Linked DNA regions of Homo sapiens: regions 1 and 2 are each reported to be linked to region 3. The links are microRNA targets in miRTarBase. Many come from high-throughput screens and were not tested one by one. Region 3 holds a microRNA gene; each other region holds the end of a gene's coding sequence.
The links. The annotated mature microRNA hsa-miR-4638-5p reads ACUCGGCUGCGGUGGACAAGU and lies in region 3 at 2,000-2,020, opposite strand. An mRNA with a match to its seed (bases 2 to 7 or 8) in the 3' UTR can be bound and repressed. Matches are read on the target gene's strand: a 7mer-m8 pairs with bases 2 to 8, a 7mer-A1 pairs with bases 2 to 7 and ends in A, and an 8mer does both.

Region 1 (4,243 bases), not on the chromosome of region 3:
GAGGTGTCTCTTGCTAATATCCCTTTACCTTTTAATTTTAGTTCTTAACACATAGCCCCTTATGTGTTGTTTTTTACTGGGAATTTTCAAAAATATGGTTAAAATATTCTAAGACATTTTGCAAATCAAGAAATACCACTATTCCTGGATCCTAACAATAAATTAGAGCTCTCATAAGTGGTCTCCTGTGGGGATGACTTCATAGTTTATCTTGACTCAGAAGGAGGACAGATAACTACTGGCATGAAATTGAAGGATTATCCTGCTTTAAATGAATTTCACCTTTTAAGTTTTACTCTGTATTTGTGTATCCTGTAGTTTCCTGGGTTCCCTGATTGCTTTGCTTGGTTCTTTACCATGTTTGCCTTCTCTGTGCTAAATAAAAAATGAAGTTCATTTTAAAGAAATGATTAATTTGGTATTTTCCTTTCTAGGATCAAGCGTGCTTTCCTTATCGAGGAGCAGAAAATCGTTGTGAAAGTGTTGAAGGCACAAGCACAGAGTCAGAAAGCTAAATAAAAAAATGAAACTTTTTTGAGTAATAAAAATGAAAAGACGCTGTATGTATGACTTTTTTTTTTTCTGTTGTAATGTGTTAGTATACAGATTTTGTTTCTGTATGGTATTTGGGGACCCTATAGTTTTTAGCAGATTACTTTTTCTTGTTTTGTTTGTTGTTTGTTTGTTTTTGGTTTGGTTTGGTTTTTTTGAGACGGAGTTTCTCTCTTGTTGCCTAGGCTGGAGTACAATGGCAGGATCTCGGCTCACCGCACCCTCTGCCTTCCAGGTTCAAGTGATTCTCCTGCCTCAGCCTCCCAAGTAGCTGGGATTATAGGCATGTGCCACCATGCCTGGCTAATTTTGTATATTTTAGTAGAGACGAGGTTTCTCCATGTTGGTCAGGCTGGTCTCAAACTCCCGACCTCAGGTGATCTGCCCACCTCGGCCTCCCAAAGTGCTGGTGTTAAGGTGCGAGCCGCAGCACCCAGCCAGTGGGTTACTTTTTCTGAAGAAACAGTTGGTGGTCACTGATGGCCAGAATTTTTTTGGTGACAGCTCTACCGCTGCATTGGAGCATAATGTCCTTCTCTTTGTGGGCTGAGACTTCAGGGTGGTTTGGGAGGAATGGCCCTTCTATTTGAAACTTTAATATCCCTTTGATCCTTACTATGGTATCTCCTTTACGTCAGCAAGTTTCATAGGATAGAAACCTTGGTATTCTAGTTCCTTGGAATGGAACCTTTTTAAGATTGTTTTTAAACCCTCTGTTCTTTTAGGTCACTTCAGTTCAAAAATGGTATCTTGGAGAGCTCAGAACTCCTTATTTAACAAATGAGTGAGCTACTATATATAAAACCTTGGGTCAAGGGTATAGTTTCTGATCTACATTGGATTTATTATCCAGGCCAGAATGTTAAAATACAGACCTCATTTTTCTTGGGAACTATGTAGTGTTTCTGCCAGCTCAGACAAGGTTTCACTCCTGCTGCCCAGCCTGGAGTGCAATCTTGGCTTGCTGCAACCTCCACCTCCTGGACTCAAGTGATTCTCTGCCTCAGCCTCCCAAGTAGCTGGGACTACAGGTAGGCACCACCATGCCTGGCTCATTTTTGGTTTTTTGAGAAACAGTTTCACCATGTTCCTAGGCTGGTCTCAAAACTCCTGGGCTCAAGCAGTCTGCCTGCCTCAGCCTCCCAGCGTGCCAGGATTACAGGCATGAGCCATTCTTCTGCCCAACCTGTTGGCTGACAACCTTTTTTTTTTTTTTTTTTTTTGAAATGGAGCCTTGCTCTTGCCCAGGCTGGAGCGTACTGGCTCGATTTCGGCTCACTGCAACCTCCACCTCCTGGGTTCAAGCAATTCTGCCTCAGCCTCCTGAGGATTACAGGCGCCCACCACCACACCCGGCTAATTTTTGTATTTTTAGTAGAGATGGGGTTTTGCCATATTGGCCAGGTTCATCTTGAACTCTTGATCTCAAGTGATCCGCCCACCTTGGCCTCCCAAAGTGCTGAGATTACAGGCGTGAGCCCTTGCACCCGGCCAACACCATCTCTTAAAGCCATAACAAGCTTTATTCCAATCTGAGTAGAGAGCAGAGACCTTGAGCCATCATGGAATGCAGAAGCTGAAAGTACCTGGGGAGTTCAGTAAATTTTGACTATTTTCCTCAGTTGAGGAAAATTTACCTACTAACTGGCATGATGTAACTACTTAAGCAGAGGAGAGTTACCGCTTAGCTATACATAAGAACATGCTTTTCTGGCTGGACGCCGTGGTTCATGCCTGTAATCCCAGTACTTTGGGAGGCCAAGGCGGGCGGATCATGAGGTCAGGAGATCGAGACCATCCTGTCTAGCACGGTGAAACCCCGTCTGTACTAAAAATACAAAAAACTAGCTGGGCGTGGTGGTATGCGTCTGTAATCCCAGTTACTCGGGAGGCTGAGGCAAGAGGATTGCTTGAACCCGGGAGGCAGAGGTTGCAGTAAGCCAAGATCGCGCCACTGTACTCTCGCCTGTGCGACAGAGCGAGACTCGGTCTCCAAAAAAAAAACACCTTTTCTTAGGCCAGACCCAGTGGCTCACCCCTATAGTCCCAGTCTCAACACTTGGGATGCTGAGGCAGGAGGATCACTTGAGGACAGGAGTTGGAGACCACCCTGGGCAGCTTGGCAAGACCCTGCCTAAAAAATAATTAAAAAATAAGAATACCCCTTAAGGTAAAAGGCAAAAAAAATGGGATTTCATAACACCTTTACTGTACCCCACTGCCAGTTAACTTGTTCTTGGTATAAAAAATTTTTAATTAGTGTTTTGCAGAAGAGGAGTCACAGAACTAGTAAGTGGCAAAGCTGGCAGTTGAACTCCCTTTTAAGAATTTAACCGCCAGGCGCGGTGGCTCACGCCTGTAATCCCAGCACTTTGGGAGGCTGAGGCAGGTGGATCACCGGAGGTCAGGAGTTCGAGACCAGCCTGACCAGTATGGTGAAACCCCGTCTCTACTAAAAATAACAAAAATTAGCCAGAAGTGGTGGCATGCACCTGTAATCCCAGCTATCAGGAGAATGAGGCAGAAGAATCGCTTGAACCTGTGAGGCAGAGGTTGCACTGAGCCGAGATTGCACCACTGCACTCCAGCCTGAGTGACAGTGAGACTCCTCAAAAAAAAAAAAAAAATTTAATTTTAACCACAGTACACTTGATTGGCTGTGTGCCTGACTCCACCAAATTTGTTTTAGTCCTCCCAGCAACTCCAACAGCTTTATTCCCATTTTACTGATGAGAGAACAGACACAGGTTATAGAAAACCCAGAGCCATTTGTATTGTTGGTAGGATTTTTGCAGCTGTGTTAGTGAATAAGTGTAATGACCGGGCACCCTAATAAATGCTAGCATAATCAATGATAGCTGGGATCCCTGTTGTCAACATTCATAGTCTCAAACGATTGAGATACATTAGCTTTCTCCAAACACCTGCCAATCCCAAAGATTGTTAAGCAACCAGGATAATAGAATTAATTATCTTGTATAATGTTTAATCACAGTATTGAAAATATAAAACGGGGATAGAATTGAAAAGCTTGAATTCTAAGGCAGATTTACATCACTTTCTCATGATTCAGGCTTATATATACTGCACCAAGCAGTTCTGTGACTGTGTTTTATTGTATTTGATATAACCATCTAAAAATTGGCACTTTTAATAATATACTCAGACAATAATGTGGCTTAAAACTTAAACTAATTGGCTGCTCTGTAGGCCAGTCTAGTTTTTGAAAGGTTTGAGATGTAATTTCTGAAAAAATTGCTGTGGAAGAGAAAGCCTATTTGCCACCCCAACCTGAGTTCTTGCTGGTGGAAGGAGGCTCCTCCCTCTCCTTGCTGCTCCAAGTTAGGTAGAACAACATGACTGGACACAGGCTCTAGCTGGTGGGAACTAGCAAGTTTCAGCAAAATATGAAATGGGTGACCTTTGAGAAATGTAAGGAAGTTAAAGAATTGAGGTGTACATTCTTTTCCAAGAATTCTTGGTATGTTAAATGGTTTTACTTAACAAACAGCTTTGTAGACTATTTGGAAAGTTTGGAAAAATAGAATGATAAAAAATCTCAATTTCACTACTTACTATTATTATTATTATTTTGGAGACAGAGTCTCACTCTATCACCCAGGCTGGAGTGCAGTGACGCGATCTCAGCTTACTGCAACCTCCACCTCCTGGGTTTAAGCCATTCTGCCTC
Region 2 (4,243 bases), not on the chromosome of region 3:
CATACTGAGGTTCATGCTGAGGCAGATTCTCTTTTTGGTGTTTAGAACTTTACCCACCCAAAGCTGTGCCATATTCAGGGGCTTTACTCCTAGAGCCAGTGAAGTTGAGAGCTATCTTGTATGCCTCTCCTTACTACATATCCTAAAGATCTGGAGAATTAAGTTTGGACATCAGAGAAGCATGTTTTTAACCAAGAAGCATGTTATTAACCAAGCACCACCCTTATGGTTTGAAAGAGCCAATGTTCCTCTCCAAGTACTGAATTTAACACAAGAGAATAATATGGCCAGGAAAATAAGTTTAAAGTGTCTTAACACTGTAGATAAAAAAAGTTATGATTCCCAGTCTAGAATTAAAGTGCTCTGACCATCTAGGGGAATGACTTTTACAAAGTTGGTAACCTAGGGAGTTTGATTTCTTTGTAAGGCATAGCCCACCTCTGTGATTTCTAGTATACCTTTGAACAGTGTAAAGTTCCTTCTTGGAAGAAAGGAGGCAGCAAATGTCATCACGTGCCTTGTTCTTGTTGAACAGCTATGGAGAACTGCTCAGAAAAGGAATCACATTCTAAAGGAGACTCCGGACACACCTTTGCCACTTCATTAAATTTCATTTTCTTTTCTCTTCCCACCAGGCTATTAGCTCCAGATTGTGAAATCATACAGGAAGTGGGAAAACTCTATCCACTGGAGATAGTATTTGGAATGAATGGAAGAATATGGGTTAAGGCAAAAACCATCCAGCAGACTTTAATTTTGGCAAACATTTTAGAAGCTTGTGAACACATGACGTCAGATCAAAGAAAACAGATCTTCTCCAGATTGGCAGAAAGTTGATATAGGTGGACTTTTTTACAGGTCAGTTGAGGCAAAAAACTATGGGTTTTTTCAGGTGAACCTCCCCCATTTAAATACTCAGAAGATAAGGTGTGAATGTATGTATTATTAGAGTCCGAAAGTATTTTTATAAGTTACTGGTTTTCACCCACGCTTTTGTGGGAGAGAAAATCATTGCAAAATCATTTTTTTTGTTCGGTACAATAAAGTTTACTAAAAAACAGTATTAGGGTTTATTTGGAGTTAACTCCCTTAGTAATTGCTACAGCTTCCATAATTAACTGGAGGTCAGCAGTAAAATAATTTTGTGATTATAACAGTAAGCCAGGTTCACCAGAGGAAATGTGGAATACCTAAGTATAAAGCAGCAAAGAAATGTCACCTGTAGTCCCATTATTCAGCGGGTGAGTATATAACAACGAAATACTTTTTCATTTACCAAGTATTGTGTTTTGCATGGATTAACTCCTTTATTCTAACTGCAGAAGACACTTATCCTCATAATTGAAACTGAGGCACAGAATTTAACTTGGCCTACATTCTCTATATTCATCAAATTGAAATTATAGTTATTATAGCTTATATGCCACTTTGTAATATACTTTTGTCTACTTCAAACAGCATGATACATTTCACAACTTTAGTCACATATTTCATGTTACAGGATATTTTTGAGTTTTATCATTATATAAATAACACTATGAGGATTTCTGAATCCAAATCTGGCCAAGTCTTATTTTGCTAAAATCATTTCCTAGGAGCTAAGCATAGAAAACTCTTCTATGCTATTTAGTATATTAACCAAAACCTTTAGAGGTAAAGAGACTGCCAGGTGATCCACATCAGTGATTCTTGGTTTCTAGACCTCTGAGAATATGTGAGATACAGATCCCCTGAAGCCTATCCATAGAAAGTCCTTTTTGGATCAAAGAGATTATAGAACTCTATTTGTTGATAAAGACCAAGGAGCTTCGTGTGTTTCTAATGTTTTCTAAGGACTGGATGGTTTTTAGTTCAATAGCTTTTAGGGGTACAAGTGGTTTTGGATTACACGGATGAATTGTATAGTGGTGAAGTCTGAGATTTTGGTGTACCAGTCACCTGAGTACTATATATTGTACCCAGTATGTAGTTTATCCTTCCCCCTTCCCTGTTCCGGGTCTCCAGTATCTGTTATACCACTCTGTGTGCTTACCTGTAGCTTAGCTCCCACTTAAAGTGGGAACATTTGGTATTTGGTTTTCCATTCCTGAGTTACTTCACTAAGAATAATAGCTTCCAATACTATCCAAGTTGCTGCAAAAGACATTTTTTATGGCTAATATTCCATGGGATATATATACCACACTTTATCCATTCATTGGTTGATGGGTACTTAGGTTGGTCCCATATCTTTTATTATGAACTGTCTAGCCAGTTTTTAAATAGAAAAGTACTGATTAGGTGAACAGTTCCTTAGGAATTAAATTGTGAAGGGGAGGGGACACAGCAGAGAAGTAATCTGTTGGTTCTTTTGAGATATTGAATACATGTCCCAAATTTGCTAGCTGCTTAACTAGCAAGTTAACCCAAACTGTCAGAGTAACTGAAGCAAATATGTCCAACTGGGACATAAGGAACATGAGATTTGTGTAATAAGTAGGTTATCTAACGTGTTCATGTGTCTAACACTTTCTAGCTATTTTCAAGACAGACTTAATCAATACTGTGTTTGCTTTCCAATTTAATCTGTTACAAATACATATGAAGAATCTAGTTGGTACAGGCTCAGGGAGGATAGAAAGATAGGTACACAGATTTGTCCTGTTAGGATCCTACCATTAGGAAGGATTAGGAAGAGAAGCCCTCCATGCCCATACTCTGCAAGGGAGAACAAGGTAAGAGCCACAGGAGGGAACAAAATGCTATGGGGACTCAGTAGGGATAGGTCAGAACAGGCTGGATCCTGCAAAGCTTATTACTGAGCTGGGCAACAACGAGCATGATCAGACAAGGCTGGAGAAAGTCATACAATTTTATGATGCCAGTTTAGTGAATATTAAACTCTTGATGTAACCATTTAAACAATTTCAAGAGGTCTCTCACAAATAGATGTACAAAAGTTGAATTAGCACGTCCAAAGCCATGTGGTTTTGAGGCTAATTCCTTGTTACATAATTTTTTTTTTTTTTCCCCTCGAGACAAGAGTCTGGCTCTGTCGCCCAGGCTGGATCTTGGCTCACTACAACCTCCGCCGCCCGGGTTCAGGCGATTCTCCTGCCTCAGCCTCCTGAGTAGCTGAGACTACAGGCACGCACCACCATGCCCAGCTAATTTTTGTATTTTTAGTAGAGACGAGGTTTCACCATATTAGCCAGGCTGGTCTGGAACTCCTGACCTTGTAATCCACTCACCTCAGCCTCCCAAAGTGCTGGGATTACAGGCGTGAGCCACTGCACCCACCACATTAACTTTTTATTACTTAACATATCTGAGCACTTCCTGTGAGCCAGGCACTATGGGAGATTAAAAAGCATTAAATGTGGTCCCTGACATTATTGTGAAGCTCTGAGAAGATGTCATGCAAAGACACTTGCCTATGTGCCACTGCCACCCTCTGCCCTGCTCTTTGGGTCAAGGTACCTCCAAGCGCCTCACTCCTGCAGCTGCATTTTTTTTTATTTATTTTTTTTTTGAGATGGAGTCTTGCTCTGTCACCCAGGCTGGAGTGCACTGGTGAAATCTCGGCTCACTGCAACCTTCGCCTCCCGAGTTCAAGTGATTCTCCTGCCTCAGCCTCCCAAGTAGCTGGGACTACAGGTATGCGCCACCACACCTGGCTAATTTTTGTATTTTCAGTAGAGAAGGGTTTCACCATGTTGGCCAGGCTGGTCGTGAACTCCTGACCTCAGGTGATCTGCCCACTTCGGTCTACCAAAGTGTTGGCATTACGGCGTGAGCACCTGGCCACGCAGCTGCAATCTTAGGCCCATCATTCCACTGAGTTCCGAAGAATATAGCCTTTTCCTGAAGAAACTCCTTTCTTCAATGCTTCAGGCCAGTTGTGAGTCTCTAAGTAAGTGGACAGGATATCAAACACTGTTAGAGAGTAAACAGAAAACACAGTGACCACAGAGGGAAAAAAAGAACGAGTAAATGAAAAGGATGTTCTGTAATATTTCGTTCAACAAACCTATTCTGCACCATATGTGGTACTAAGGTCTTGCGGGGAGAGGCAAGGACACAGGCTCTGCTTGCTCTCAAGGACCTCAGCCTACCCTGAAAGATACAGGCCTATGAATGGATAGGGTGCAACAGAAAGGAACACAGTAAAATGGGAAACAGAAGGGCTCTGCTGTGGCCTGGGATGGGGAAGGGCCAAGATGCTCCTGAACTGAACCCTGAAGATCAAACAGGAATTCAGTGG
Region 3 (4,000 bases):
AACACCAGTAACTCATGTGCTAGGATTGTACTAGCGACTCTGCCTATTTACAAACGTTGACCAACTTCTGCCCAGACCGCCCTCACAGACTATATAGCCCTCATAAGTCCCCGCTTTGATTTACGTCTGAGACAGAAGACGATGCTATCTTTTGCTCAGCGAGATTAAGCCAGCTTTCTATGATCAACAGACTTCTCTCGTGGTGTGGTGCGTATGCGGAGGAGACTTCGACAGCTTAAAAATACAAAACGGGGCCAGGCGCGGTGGCTCACGCCTGTCATCCCAGCACTTTGGGAGGCTGAGGCAGGAGGATCACGAGGTCAGGAGATCGAGACCGTCCTGCCAACATGGTGAAACCCCGTTTCTACTAAATACAAAAAATTAGCCGGGCGTGGTGGCGCGCCTGTAGTCTCAGCTATTCGGGAGGCTGAGGCAGGGGAATCACTTGAACCCGGGAGGCGGAGGTCGTAGTGAGCCGAGGTGGTGCCACTGCACTTCAGCCTGGAAACAGAGCAAGACTCCATCTTAAAAAAAAAAAAAAAAAAAGAAAGAAAGAAAGAGAAGAAAAAAAGAAAAAAGGCCTATATTTGCAGGACTAATTTCGAGGCCATCCTGGGCTCAAGCGATCCTCCCGCCTTGGCTTACCCAAAGTATTGGGATTACAGGCATAAGCCACCGCGGCGCATGGCCCGTTTTTATCTCTATTTATGTATGGGGGAAACGTGGAGGCTGGTATTTGTGGGGCAACATCTCACAAAAATAGACTCTTAAAGTCAAGAGCATAAAAAAGAATATACGGAAGACAAGTGTCTCATATGACACAAAGCATCTTTCTTGACAGGGAGTCGAAAGCAGGTCGTAGCGAGACAAAGGCGGAAGCCTAACCACTAAATCTCCCAGTAAAGTGGGAGTGAATCAGATAGGTTTTGACGCTCACGAACGCCTGGGGTCGTCCTGCGGTCTCACCCCAGTTTCGATAAACCACATTGTTCCCTCCAGCACAGCAAGTCTCACAGCAAGACGGGGGCAGGCCGTCTGGTAAACATAAAATGCCTAATATGTGCTGCCCGTGGGCGAGTGGCCTACAGCAAAGGGTCATGCATGCACGATAGCCCGCGGTGCTGGCCTGCAGGAATTGGTCCACAGGTACCCGCCTCTCATTCTTTCTTTGAGAGTTAGCGAGGGTGCAAACGTTGTGAGAATTCTGCTCGGGGCCTTCCACACACGGATCGGAGAACACCAGGTTAGTCCAAGTTCTAACACCCACTGTTGGTGAATCTGCTACCCACTAGGTCTTGGTACAGAGAATACCATTTGTGCACTTAGGTAACACAACTTGCCTTAACCTTTCCAAAAAGCGAAATTACGCCCAACGTGGGGCTCGAACCCACGACCCTGAGATTAAGAGTCTCATGCTCTACCGACTGAGCTAGCCGGGCGGCCATGTCTGTATTCTAACTTTGTCTCTGAAGATGGAGGTTACCCTCAGAGGTGTAAGCACGTTTCCACTGTGCAAATACTAAGAAGCGCCTGCGCCTGGCTCTGTTCTAGGCACTAGAGCCGAGGATCTGAAATCTACGGATTCCTGTACATGTGATGGCTGCATAGGCTTCAGAAGGGAAGAGCAAGAGATTAGGTGAGGGGCGAGACCTGAATTTACTTGAGTAGTGCTCTCCTTCAGTTTTGCCCCAGTCCGTGTTCCTCCGAAGCGCAGGGACACACATGTCCTTCCTGCCACGTAAGGCCGGCCTCGGGAGAGAATCTCCCGAACAGACCAAAACGTGTTTCCGCCCGGTTTCGAACCGGGGACCTTTCGCGTGTGAGGCGAACGTGATAACCACTACACTACGGAAACCACCTTGGCTACTTTCCTGCCGGCATCGTCCTGAAGACACACACGGCTGAGACGGCCGGGATAGCTCTAGGCAAGCGCCCTTGTAGGACAGGCCCGGGGACCCCTGCCGCGGCCGGCTGAGCGGTGTCCAGGTTCTGGAGCCGGACTTGTCCACCGCAGCCGAGTCCGCAGGTCCTGTAATGGCCTAGCATAGTTCACCCACGAGGGTTCGTGGTTTTTGGCGCGTTTGATCTGACATACTCAGAGGCCTGACCACCCCCCTAGGAAGCGCGACGTCCATCTGGAGTTTTCCCGCGAGCCGCCTTGAGAGCAGGGTAAGTTCTGCAGGCCCAGCCCTGGCGTCACGCTGTGTCTGGCACTCACTGGAGATTCTGTACATAAATCATGGCCCCGTCATTTTTCTCGCATCAAACAACATTTATTTATTTATGTATCGACATCAAATCTCTATAAAAATAAAATTTAAAGAGCTATTTAAGCATCAAGTATTATTTCTACCGCACAAAGCATCTATTTTTGCAGAGATGCTGTGAGAATGTAGATGTAATGATTCGTCACCACTTCTTCACTGCTGGGCAGTTAGGGAAGTTCATCTAAACCATGAGACAGTGTCCGGTTGGCAGTTTCTACCTCGGATGCGAAACGCCGACTACAGTTGGGGAAGGGTGGGGCGTCTGCTGCCCTAACCCGCGAAGCGCTTTCTCAGGCCCCGCCCCCGGTCCGACCCGGACGACCCTCTGAGTCCTCCACAACGAAGTCGTCTGCCTAGAAGGGCCGGAAGTACTTCAGGGCGCGCCGCGGACCCACCCCCTCGCTTCCGGCATCGGCTGTGGGGAGTACCGGCTGCAGTCGGCTGTGCCGGGAGGGTAGGATGGCGTCTGGCCGATGCGGTGATAGCACCGAAAGCAGACGGCCGCCAGGCGCTCCCCCTACCCCCCGAAGTTTCTCCCCAGCGGCGGGGGATGGGGGTAGGCGGTTCCTCTGTTCTTTCTGCGTTCCCCGCGGCCTCTTACCACAGAGACGCGGGCCTCCACCGTCCTAGCCCTCCCGCCCTGTTCTCTAGTGCGGACTAGAGCGTCTCCTCGCCATTTCCTGTCGCCCTGGGGCCCCGCGGGGAAAAAGGGGGAGTAGCAGGACAGCGGAGGGAAGTCGCGAGCTTAGGTGGTGTGTAGACGCCGGAAGTGTTGGGAAGGAGGCCGGAAGCTAGGGGCGGGGCCAGGAAGTGAGGAGGGGCGGGGGTTTATGAGGAGTCCAAGGGAGCATTGGGGCAGACTTGTACTCAGAGCCACCTGAGGGACTTGGCGGTGGCGCCCAGCACTGTCCCCTCCCCTCGTAGAGACACGGTTGTCGTTTGGGAGTAGGGAACACTGTGTTGGGGTGGGTTGTCGGCAGGACATCTCTCTGGCTGCTCTTGGGGCGAGGTGTGGAGGGGCAGGGCTGGGGGTGGAGCCGGGTCGCCAGGGCGTCGGTAGGGAAGACCCCCGCCCCTCGCCCCCCCACCGAACCTCTACACTGGCTGGCTGGACACTAAGATGGCTGCCGTTGCCATGACACCCAACCCTGTGCAGACCCTTCAGGAGGAGGCGGTGTGCGCCATCTGCCTCGATTACTTCACGGACCCCGTGTCCATCGGCTGCGGGCACAACTTCTGCCGAGTTTGTGTAACCCAGTTGTGGGGTGGGGAGGATGAGGAGGACAGAGATGAGTTAGATCGGGAGGAGGAGGAGGAGGACGGAGAGGAGGAGGAAGTGGAGGCTGTGGGGGCTGGCGCGGGGTGGGACACCCCCATGCGGGATGAAGACTACGAGGGTGACATGGAGGAGGAGGTCGAGGAGGAAGAAGAGGGTGTGTTCTGGACCAGTGGCATGAGCAGGTCCAGCTGGGACAACATGGACTATGTGTGGGAGGAGGAGGACGAGGAGGAAGACCTGGACTACTACTTGGGGGACATGGAGGAGGAGGACCTGAGGGGGGAGGATGAGGAGGACGAGGAGGAAGTGCTGGAGGAGGTTGAGGAAGAGGATCTAGACCCCGTCACCCCACTGCCCCCGCCTCCAGCCCCTCGGAGGTGCTTCACATGCCCTCAGTGCCGAAAGAGCTTTCCTCGGCGGAGCTTCCGCCCCAACCTGCAGCTGGCCAATATGG

Region 1: miRTarBase lists RPL34 as a target of hsa-miR-4638-5p. The part of its 3' UTR that is shown has no 7-base or 8-base seed match.
Region 2: miRTarBase lists TRMT10B as a target of hsa-miR-4638-5p. Seed matches in the 3' UTR shown: 8mer at 3,559-3,566.

What each region holds. Positions count from the first base shown.
Region 1 is chr4:108,624,694-108,628,936 of GRCh38, forward strand. It overlaps RPL34 (ribosomal protein L34), which reads left to right. Exons shown (of 5, transcript NM_001319236.2): 5 at 435-677. The coding sequence ends at 519. Among named protein-coding and RNA genes, the nearest start is that of RPL34, 6.2 kb to the left of the region's middle.
Region 2 is chr9:37,777,273-37,781,515 of GRCh38, reverse strand. TRMT10B (tRNA methyltransferase 10B) reads right to left here. Exons shown (of 9, transcript NM_144964.4): 9 at 2,544-3,915. The coding sequence ends at 3,809. EXOSC3 (exosome component 3) reads left to right here. Exons shown (of 4, transcript NM_016042.4): 4 at 636-1,802. The coding sequence ends at 837. Among named protein-coding and RNA genes, the nearest start is that of EXOSC3, 5.7 kb to the left of the region's middle.
Region 3 is chr5:181,220,613-181,224,612 of GRCh38, forward strand. MIR4638 (microRNA 4638) reads right to left here and starts at 2,021; the gene lies at 1,954-2,021. It overlaps TRIM41 (tripartite motif containing 41), which reads left to right and starts at 2,669. Exons shown (of 6, transcript NM_033549.5): 1 at 2,669-4,000. The coding sequence starts at 3,388. TRK-CTT2-3 (tRNA-Lys (anticodon CTT) 2-3) reads right to left here and starts at 1,439; the gene lies at 1,367-1,439. TRV-CAC1-5 (tRNA-Val (anticodon CAC) 1-5) reads right to left here and starts at 1,855; the gene lies at 1,783-1,855. RefSeq lists silencers at 1,248-1,457, 1,708-1,937, 3,208-3,417 and enhancers at 2,668-2,897, 3,565-4,000.